Homo sapiens: one gene and its partner. The protein of the gene in region 1 interacts with the protein of each later gene in a pairwise test. Each region holds a gene or a part of one and is shown on either strand. Other genes may lie near its edges.

What was found.
Region 2: the proteins of ARHGAP1 (region 1) and CHEK2 interact in a two-hybrid assay, tested with the Homo sapiens proteins (one large-scale study listed by BioGRID and IntAct).

The regions. Positions count from the first base shown.
Region 1 is NC_000011.10:46,679,848-46,683,871, reverse strand, and holds part of ARHGAP1 (rho GTPase-activating protein 1), read left to right. Parts: intron 1-1,689; coding exon 1,690-1,821; intron 1,822-2,492; coding exon 2,493-2,579; intron 2,580-2,762; coding exon 2,763-2,861; intron 2,862-3,124; coding exon 3,125-3,232; intron 3,233-3,308; coding exon 3,309-3,385; intron 3,386-3,589; coding exon 3,590-3,667; intron 3,668-4,024. UniProt on the Homo sapiens protein: GTPase activator for the Rho, Rac and Cdc42 proteins, converting them to the putatively inactive GDP-bound state. Cdc42 seems to be the preferred substrate.
Region 2 is NC_000022.11:28,724,821-28,728,320, reverse strand, and holds part of CHEK2 (serine/threonine-protein kinase Chk2), read left to right. Parts: intron 1-2,953; coding exon 2,954-3,078; intron 3,079-3,196; coding exon 3,197-3,344; intron 3,345-3,397; coding exon of another isoform or gene 3,398-3,435; intron 3,436-3,500. UniProt on the Homo sapiens protein: Serine/threonine-protein kinase which is required for checkpoint-mediated cell cycle arrest, activation of DNA repair and apoptosis in response to the presence of DNA double-strand breaks.

The DNA of each region.
Region 1 (4,024 bases):
GGTTGGGAGTTGGAGACCAGCCTGACGAACATGGAGAAACCCCATCTCTACTGAAAATACAAAATTAGCTGGGCGTGGTGGCACATGCCTATAATCCCAGCTACTTGGGAGGCTGAGTCAGGAGAATCACTTGAATCTGGGAGGCAGAGGTTTTGGTGAGCCGAGATCATGCCACTGCACTCCAGCCTGGGCAACAAGAGCAAAACTCCATCTCAAAAAAAAAAAAAAGGAGAGGGCTTTACACACACTCCCTTCCCTTTCCCCAGTTCTTGTTCATTCCATCCATAACTCTCAGTGTGCTCAACACCAGGTGTGTATATGTTTGTGCTGAGCTGGTAGATAGCGTGTCATGAGCATAATAGGGAACCAGAGGAATTGGGGCTCTTTGGTCCACTAAAGGCCCAGTGACTGGAGCAGGTGACTCTCTGGCCACCCCATCCCCTCTCATGGGCACAGTGTTTTACCGCCGGCACTGGAGTTCATGTGTAGAAGGCAAAGCTGTCCCATGGTCAAGAATGCAGGCTTTCGGCCAGGTGCAGTGACTCATGCCTGTAATCTCCCAGCACTTTGGGAGGCTGAGGTGGGAGGATTGCTTGAGGCCAGGAACTCAAGACCAGCCTGGGCAACATAGTGAGACCTGTCTCTACAAAATAAAAAGTAGAAAAAAGAGCCGGGTGTGGTGGCTCACACCTGCGGTTCCTACTACTCAGGAGGCTGAGGCAGGAGGATAGCTTAAGCCTGGGAGGTCAAGGCTGCGGTGAGCTGTGATTGCGCTACGGTGCCCCAGCCTGGGTGACAGTAAGACCCTGTCTCAAAAAAAAAAAAAAAAAAAAAGCAGGCTTTGGTGTTAGACACTTCACTTCCAGGATCTACCACAAGCTGTGTGACCTTGGATCAGCACTTGACCTCTCTGGTCATTGCCTTCATTTGTAGGATGGGGATTACATCAGCCTCAGTTATAAGCAATGTATGAGCTAATGTATGTGAAGTGCTTGGCAGACACTAAAAACTTAATATTGAGAAATGGTGACTGTCATCATTATTATTGATTCAGAGAAATCCCTGATTCAGGGGAAACGTCATTCCCCTTTTCACTGCAGGCCTAGGCAGGCCCGGGTTAGGGTCCTGGTCTCCTGACATCTAGTTCCTGCTCAAGAGTGAGAACTGTTATTATTATTACTATTATTGAGACAGAGTTTCACTCTTGTTGCCCAGGCTGGAGTACAGTGCCACAATCTCTGCTCACTGAAACCTCCGCCTCCTGGGTTCAAGCGATTCTCCTGCCTCAGCCTCCTGAGTAGCTGGGATTACAGGCCTGCACCACCATGCTCGGCTAATTTTTGCATTTTTAGTAGAGATGGGGTTTCACCATGTTGGCCAGGCTGGTCTTGAACTCCTGACCTCAGGTGATCCACCCGCCTTGGCCTCCCAAAGTGTTGGGATTACAGGCATGAGCCACTGCGCCCGGCTGAGAGCTGTTATTACTATTCTCATTCCTCTGCCCAGCCTCTACCCTAGGCCTCCTCCACAGCAACCTGGTGACTGATTATGAGCCAGAACAGACTGTGCTAGGGGAGGGCCTGTGGGGAAGGGGCTGTGACGTGGTGGGAGACTCTTGGGGCTGCTTTCTGTCTTCGTGGGGCCGCCCCTGTGCACAGGGCAGGCCTGAGCAGGGCTTTTCCCTGGAAGGTACCTGAAGCACACCCTGGACCAGTACGTGGAGAGTGACTACACACTTCTGTATCTGCACCACGGCCTGACCAGCGACAACAAGCCCTCCCTCAGCTGGCTCCGTGATGCCTACCGGGAGTTTGACCGCAAGTGGGTTGGGGCATGGGGCCTGCACAGTCAGATCCAGAGGCAGCGGCTCTGCCAGCTTCCGGGCTGCCCTCCACTTGGGCAGGAGCTTATTCCAAGGCAGGGGGTGGCGGGGGCTGCCGTCTACGTCAATGTAAAGAATCTGCAGTCAGATCACCCTGGGCTTAAGTAAGGCCCAGTTTCTCAGCTTATTTGCACTCTGACCTCTTGTTTTACTTAACCTCTTTGAGCCTCCTGTTTTCTAATCTGTAAAATGAGACAGTGATGGCCCTTACCTCGCATGCTGGCCATGCATGTTCAAATCAGAAAATATGCACTGAGGCAGGGTGTGGTGGCTCACACCTGTAATCCCAGCACTTTGGGAAGCTGAGGCGGATGGATCACTTGAGGTCAGGAGTTCCAGACCAGCCTGGCCAACATGGTGAAACCCTGTCTCCGCTAAAAATACAAAAATTAGCTAGGTGTGGTGGTGGGTGCCTGTAATCCTAGTTACTCAGGAGGCTGAGGCAGGAGAATAGCTTGAATCCGGGAGGTGGAGGCTGCAATGAGCTGAGATCACACTCCAGCCTGGGTGAAGGAGACTCTGTCTCAAAAAAAAAAAGTATGCACTGGGACCCTAGCGTGGCACCTGTCCCACCACGCCTGCTCCTGAGTTGTCCATTCTGTCTCTGCAGGTACAAGAAAAACATCAAGGCCTTGTACATCGTGCATCCAACCATGTTCATCAAAACTCTGCTCATCCTCTTCAAGCCCCTCATCAGGTGAGTGGCCACGGGCAGGGCTGGTGGTCCCGGCTTGCCTGGAACTCTGAAGCTGGGAGGCTGGGCAGCCTGGGGACCACCAGGTGCGGCTGGGCTTCCGTCTGAACTGGGTGGGTGTTGAGGGGAGAGTGGAGGCCACCGGAAGCGGGCCCCCACAACCCAGGCCCTTTCTTCCACCAACAGCTTCAAGTTCGGGCAGAAGATCTTCTATGTGAATTACCTGAGCGAGCTGAGCGAGCACGTGAAGCTGGAGCAGCTGGGGATCCCTCGCCAAGTGCTCAAGTGAGGCGGGTGCGGCGGCTGGGGGCTCGTGAAGCCAGGGTAATGAGGACGTGTGTCCTGATTCAGAGACCGCGTGGGGCTTAGGCAGAGCAAGCCCGTGTCCCGACCTCTCCCAGGTCTTTGCTTTCTGCTGTGGAAAGCGGAGTTGTTACAGAGATCGCATGAGATGATCCTCCTGACCCCGCGTGGTCAATGCTTGATTGAATTGGCAGAGTGACTCCAGAGCCAGGCAGGACCTGACCCACCTCCCTCTACTCCTACAGATATGACGACTTCCTGAAATCCACACAGAAGAGCCCCGCGACAGCCCCCAAGCCCATGCCCCCACGGCCCCCCCTGCCCAACCAGCAGTTTGGAGTCTCGCTGCAGCAGTAAGTATGAAAGGTGGCTGGGCCACGGCGGGGCGGGAAGGGCTGCAGGCCCGGCTCACCAGCCTTTTTCCCGCAGCCTCCAGGAGAAGAATCCAGAGCAGGAGCCCATTCCCATTGTACTCAGGGAGACTGTTGCCTACTTACAGGCCCACGGTGAGTGCCGGGCCTGCCTCCTCACCAGCCAGGTCTCCCGGCTCCCTTCAGGAAGCTGGGGAAGCTGCTGGGCAGGGCAGAGGGAGGTCCTGCAAGCCTCAACGTCCCCACCCAGCCCTGCCTAGAACCCCAAGACAGAGAAGGGGCAGGGAATCCAGCCGGTGCCCAGCGCTCGGAGGCTCACCAGGCCCTACTGTTTCCCAGCTCTCACCACCGAGGGCATCTTCCGGAGGTCGGCCAACACCCAAGTGGTCCGGGAAGTGCAGCAGAAGTACAACATGGGTGAGCAGCCCTGGGCTGTTGCAGGGCCATATGTGTGTTACTGGTAGGGGGCTTCTCTGCCCTCTGCTGCCCTGTAAATGAGAGTCTCAGAGTCTCTTCCTGCTGGAGGTTTCCGTGGCTCTGGGTGTCACATAAGTCCTACTTCTGCCAGGCCTGCTGCCTCATCGGTCGGGCTCCCGGGTCCTGGGTATAGGCACATTCAGAGGCAAGGAATAACGGTGGGGTGTGCCGGGCCCCACTTCCCCAGATGGCCGGAACCTGCATTCTCTGATCACAGAGGAAGAGGGAGGCAGGTGTCAGAGGGCGCCCCTGGGAGGAGGGGCTTATGCAGTGTCCAGGGGCAGTCAGGCAGTGCGG
Region 2 (3,500 bases), on another chromosome or scaffold:
CTGTCACACAATTGTTCAATTATTCTTTTTAAATCATTTTTATTTCTGTCAGATCAGTAGTAATTATCTCTCTCATTCTAATTTTAGTAATTTGAGTCTTGTCTCTTTTTTTCTTGTTCAGTCTGTCTAAGGTTTGCCAACTTGTTGATCTTTTTAACTAACTAAATTTGGATTTGTTAATTTTCTTTTTCTTTCTAGAGATAGGGTCTCACTCTCACTCTGGAGTGAGTGGTGCAACCACAGCTTAGTGCAGCCTCGACCTTCAGGCTCAAGTGATCCTCCTTCCTTGGCCTCCCAAAGTACTGGGATTACAGGTGTGAGCCATCGTGCCCAGCCCATATGTAATTTTGATAGATCTTGCTAAATTGTCCTCCCTAGACAATTATAGACAATGTGTGTATAAATTATATTCCCAATGGCAATGTATGAGAGTACCCGCTTTTTCATACCTCTTGCCAGCACAGGGTGATATGAAACTTTTGGATTTTTGCCAATCTAATAGGTAAAACATGAAATCTTAATGTGTTTTTGATTTCTGAATTTTCTTATATTGGGTTAGCTTGGCCACCTTTCATATGTTTGAGCCAGCTGTATTTCTGTTTCTTGTAAATTATCTTTTCATATCCTTTACCTATTTTTCTACTGGACTGTTTAGCGTTTTCACTGATTTATAGGAACCTAACATTTATTAGGGAAATTATTCCTTTTCCTGATAGGAGTTGCTAGTATTTTCCCTAGTCTGCCTTGCAATGAACATTTAATTACCTGCCATGTGCAATATCCCAAGTGCTGGAGTTGTACTGTTAAACAAGAGGTCTCCAGCTGCCCTCCTGGAGGTTATGTTCTAATGCAGGGAGGTGGGGAGAAAATATACAAATAAGCAAGGTAATTTCCAGCCGTGGCCCATACCCAAAAAGATATAAAACAGGATAACATTATGATAACAGGTGAGTAATGTTTATATAACAAGCTGAGCGGGAGGCCGGGTGTGGTGGCGCATGCCTGTTATCCCAGCACTTTGGGAGGCCGAGGCGGGCGGATCACAAGTTCAGGAGATCGAGACCATCCTGTCTAACATGGCGAAACCCCGTCTCTACTAAAATTACAAAAAATTAGCTGGGCATGGTGGCACGTGCCTGTAGTCCCAGCCACTCGGGAGGCTGAGGCAGGAGAATCGCTTGAACCTGGGAGGTGGAGGTTGCAGTGAGCCGAGATCGCGCCACCGCACTCCAGCCTGGGCGACAGAGCGAGACTCCATCTCAAAGAAAGAAAGCTGAGTGGGAGATGATAGTAGAGTCCTAAAGGCAGATAGTGTTGTGTAGATAGTATCTGTTATACAAAAGGCAAGGTGGAATGAGCCATTTGTGTAGTTGGGGAAGAAGTGCTAAGACCACAAGGCAGATTGAACCCAGCATTCTTGGGGGCAGTGAAAGGAGGCCAGTGGTGCTGGGTGTCATGAGCAAGGGGAGAGGGGTATGAGGTGGGGCTGGAATGGTGGCAGACGCCAGACCCTGAGCATCTAGTAGGCCATGAGGAAGAGTGCAGATTTTATGCTAAGTGTCATGGAAAACCTCAGGAAGGTAATAAGCAGGAAATTACTGTATTGCAAGTAATTTTCCAAGTCATTAAAAATTACTCGAGAACTTTTAATGACTATTTGTTATTTCACGGTTTTATATATATATGTATGTGTATGTGTGTGTTTGTGTATATAAATACATATATTAATAGATTATAATATATATTATATATTATTATATATTTAGATATAATTACTATATTATAAATATATAATATATGTTATATTGTGTATAAATATATAATTATATTTAAGACAACTTATAAAATAAATTTATATAACATGTATAATAAATACAAATTATATATATTATATATAATAAATATAAAATAAATATATAATATATATTAAATATTTGTTTATTTATTTTTTTGAGACAGGGTCTTGCTCTGTTGCCCAGGTTGGAGTACAGTGGCAGGATCACAGCCCATTGTAGCATCAGCTTATCTTGCTCAAGTGATCCTCCTCCTTCAGCCTCCTGAGTAGCTGGACTACAGGCATGCACCACCACATCTGGTTAATTGTTTTTTGTTTTTTTTCAGACAGAGTCTTGCTTTGTCGTCCAGGCTGGAGTGCAGTGGCGCAATCTTGGCTCACTGCATCCTCCACCTCCCAGGTTCAAGCAATTCTCTGCCTCAGCTTCCCGAGTAACTGGGATTACAGGCACCCGCCACCACGCCCAGCTAATTTTTGTATTTTTTAGTAGAGACAGGGTTTCACCATCTTGGCCAGGCTGGTCTTGAACTCCTGACCTCGTGATCCATTCGTCTCAGCCTCCCAAAGTGCTGGGATTACAGGCATGAGCCACCACACCTGGCCATTTTTTTTTTTTTGAAACTGGGTCTCACTCTGTCGCCCAGGCTAGTGTGCAGTGGCGCAGTCTCAGCTCACTGCAGCCTCGACCTCCTGGGCTCAAGCGATCCTCCCACCTCAGCCTCCTGAGTAGCTGAGACCACAGGGACCCACCACCACACCCTGCTGATTTTTTATTTTTTGTAGAGATAGGGTTTCACCATGTTGCCCAGACTAATTTTTAAATTCTTGGTAGAGATGGGTGCCCCCTATGTTGCCCAGGCTGGTCATGAGCTCCTGGGGTCAAGTGATCCTCCTGCCTTAGCCTTCCAAAGGGCTGAGATTACAGGTGTGAGCCACTGTGCCTGGCCATGTGGTTATAGATAAACTGCCATTTGTTAAACTCATTGGTAATGTTGTTTTTTCTCTCCTAATTTTTAATCTTGTAAAATCTTGATAAGCAGATTGATAATTCTGATTGCCTTCTTAGGCTATTTTCCTACAATTAGCATTTATGAGCAATTTTTAAACGTTTGATACATGAAATTCAACAGCCCTCTGATGCATGCTTTTATATTACAGAATGTGTGAATGACAACTACTGGTTTGGGAGGGACAAAAGCTGTGAATATTGCTTTGATGAACCACTGCTGAAAAGAACAGATAAATACCGAACATACAGCAAGAAACACTTTCGGATTTTCAGGGTAGGTAATGAATACCCATGTATCTAGGAGAGCTGGTAATTTGGTCATTGTTTTTAGATATTTTCCCACTATAAATCTCTGCTATTCAAAGTCTGAAACAAAATGTTCTCTATTTTAGGAAGTGGGTCCTAAAAACTCTTACATTGCATACATAGAAGATCACAGTGGCAATGGAACCTTTGTAAATACAGAGCTTGTAGGGAAAGGAAAACGCCGTCCTTTGAATAACAATTCTGAAATTGCACTGTCACTAAGCAGAAATAAAGGTAATATTATTATCTTATGGTTACTGGAATTTTTTTTTTCCACTCTCTCATAGGAGGAAAATTTGTCCTGTCCTTACAGAATATGGTTTAAGTGAGTAAAGATGAGTAAGTTGCTGGGCGTGGTGGCTCACACCTGTAATCCCAGCACTTTGGGAG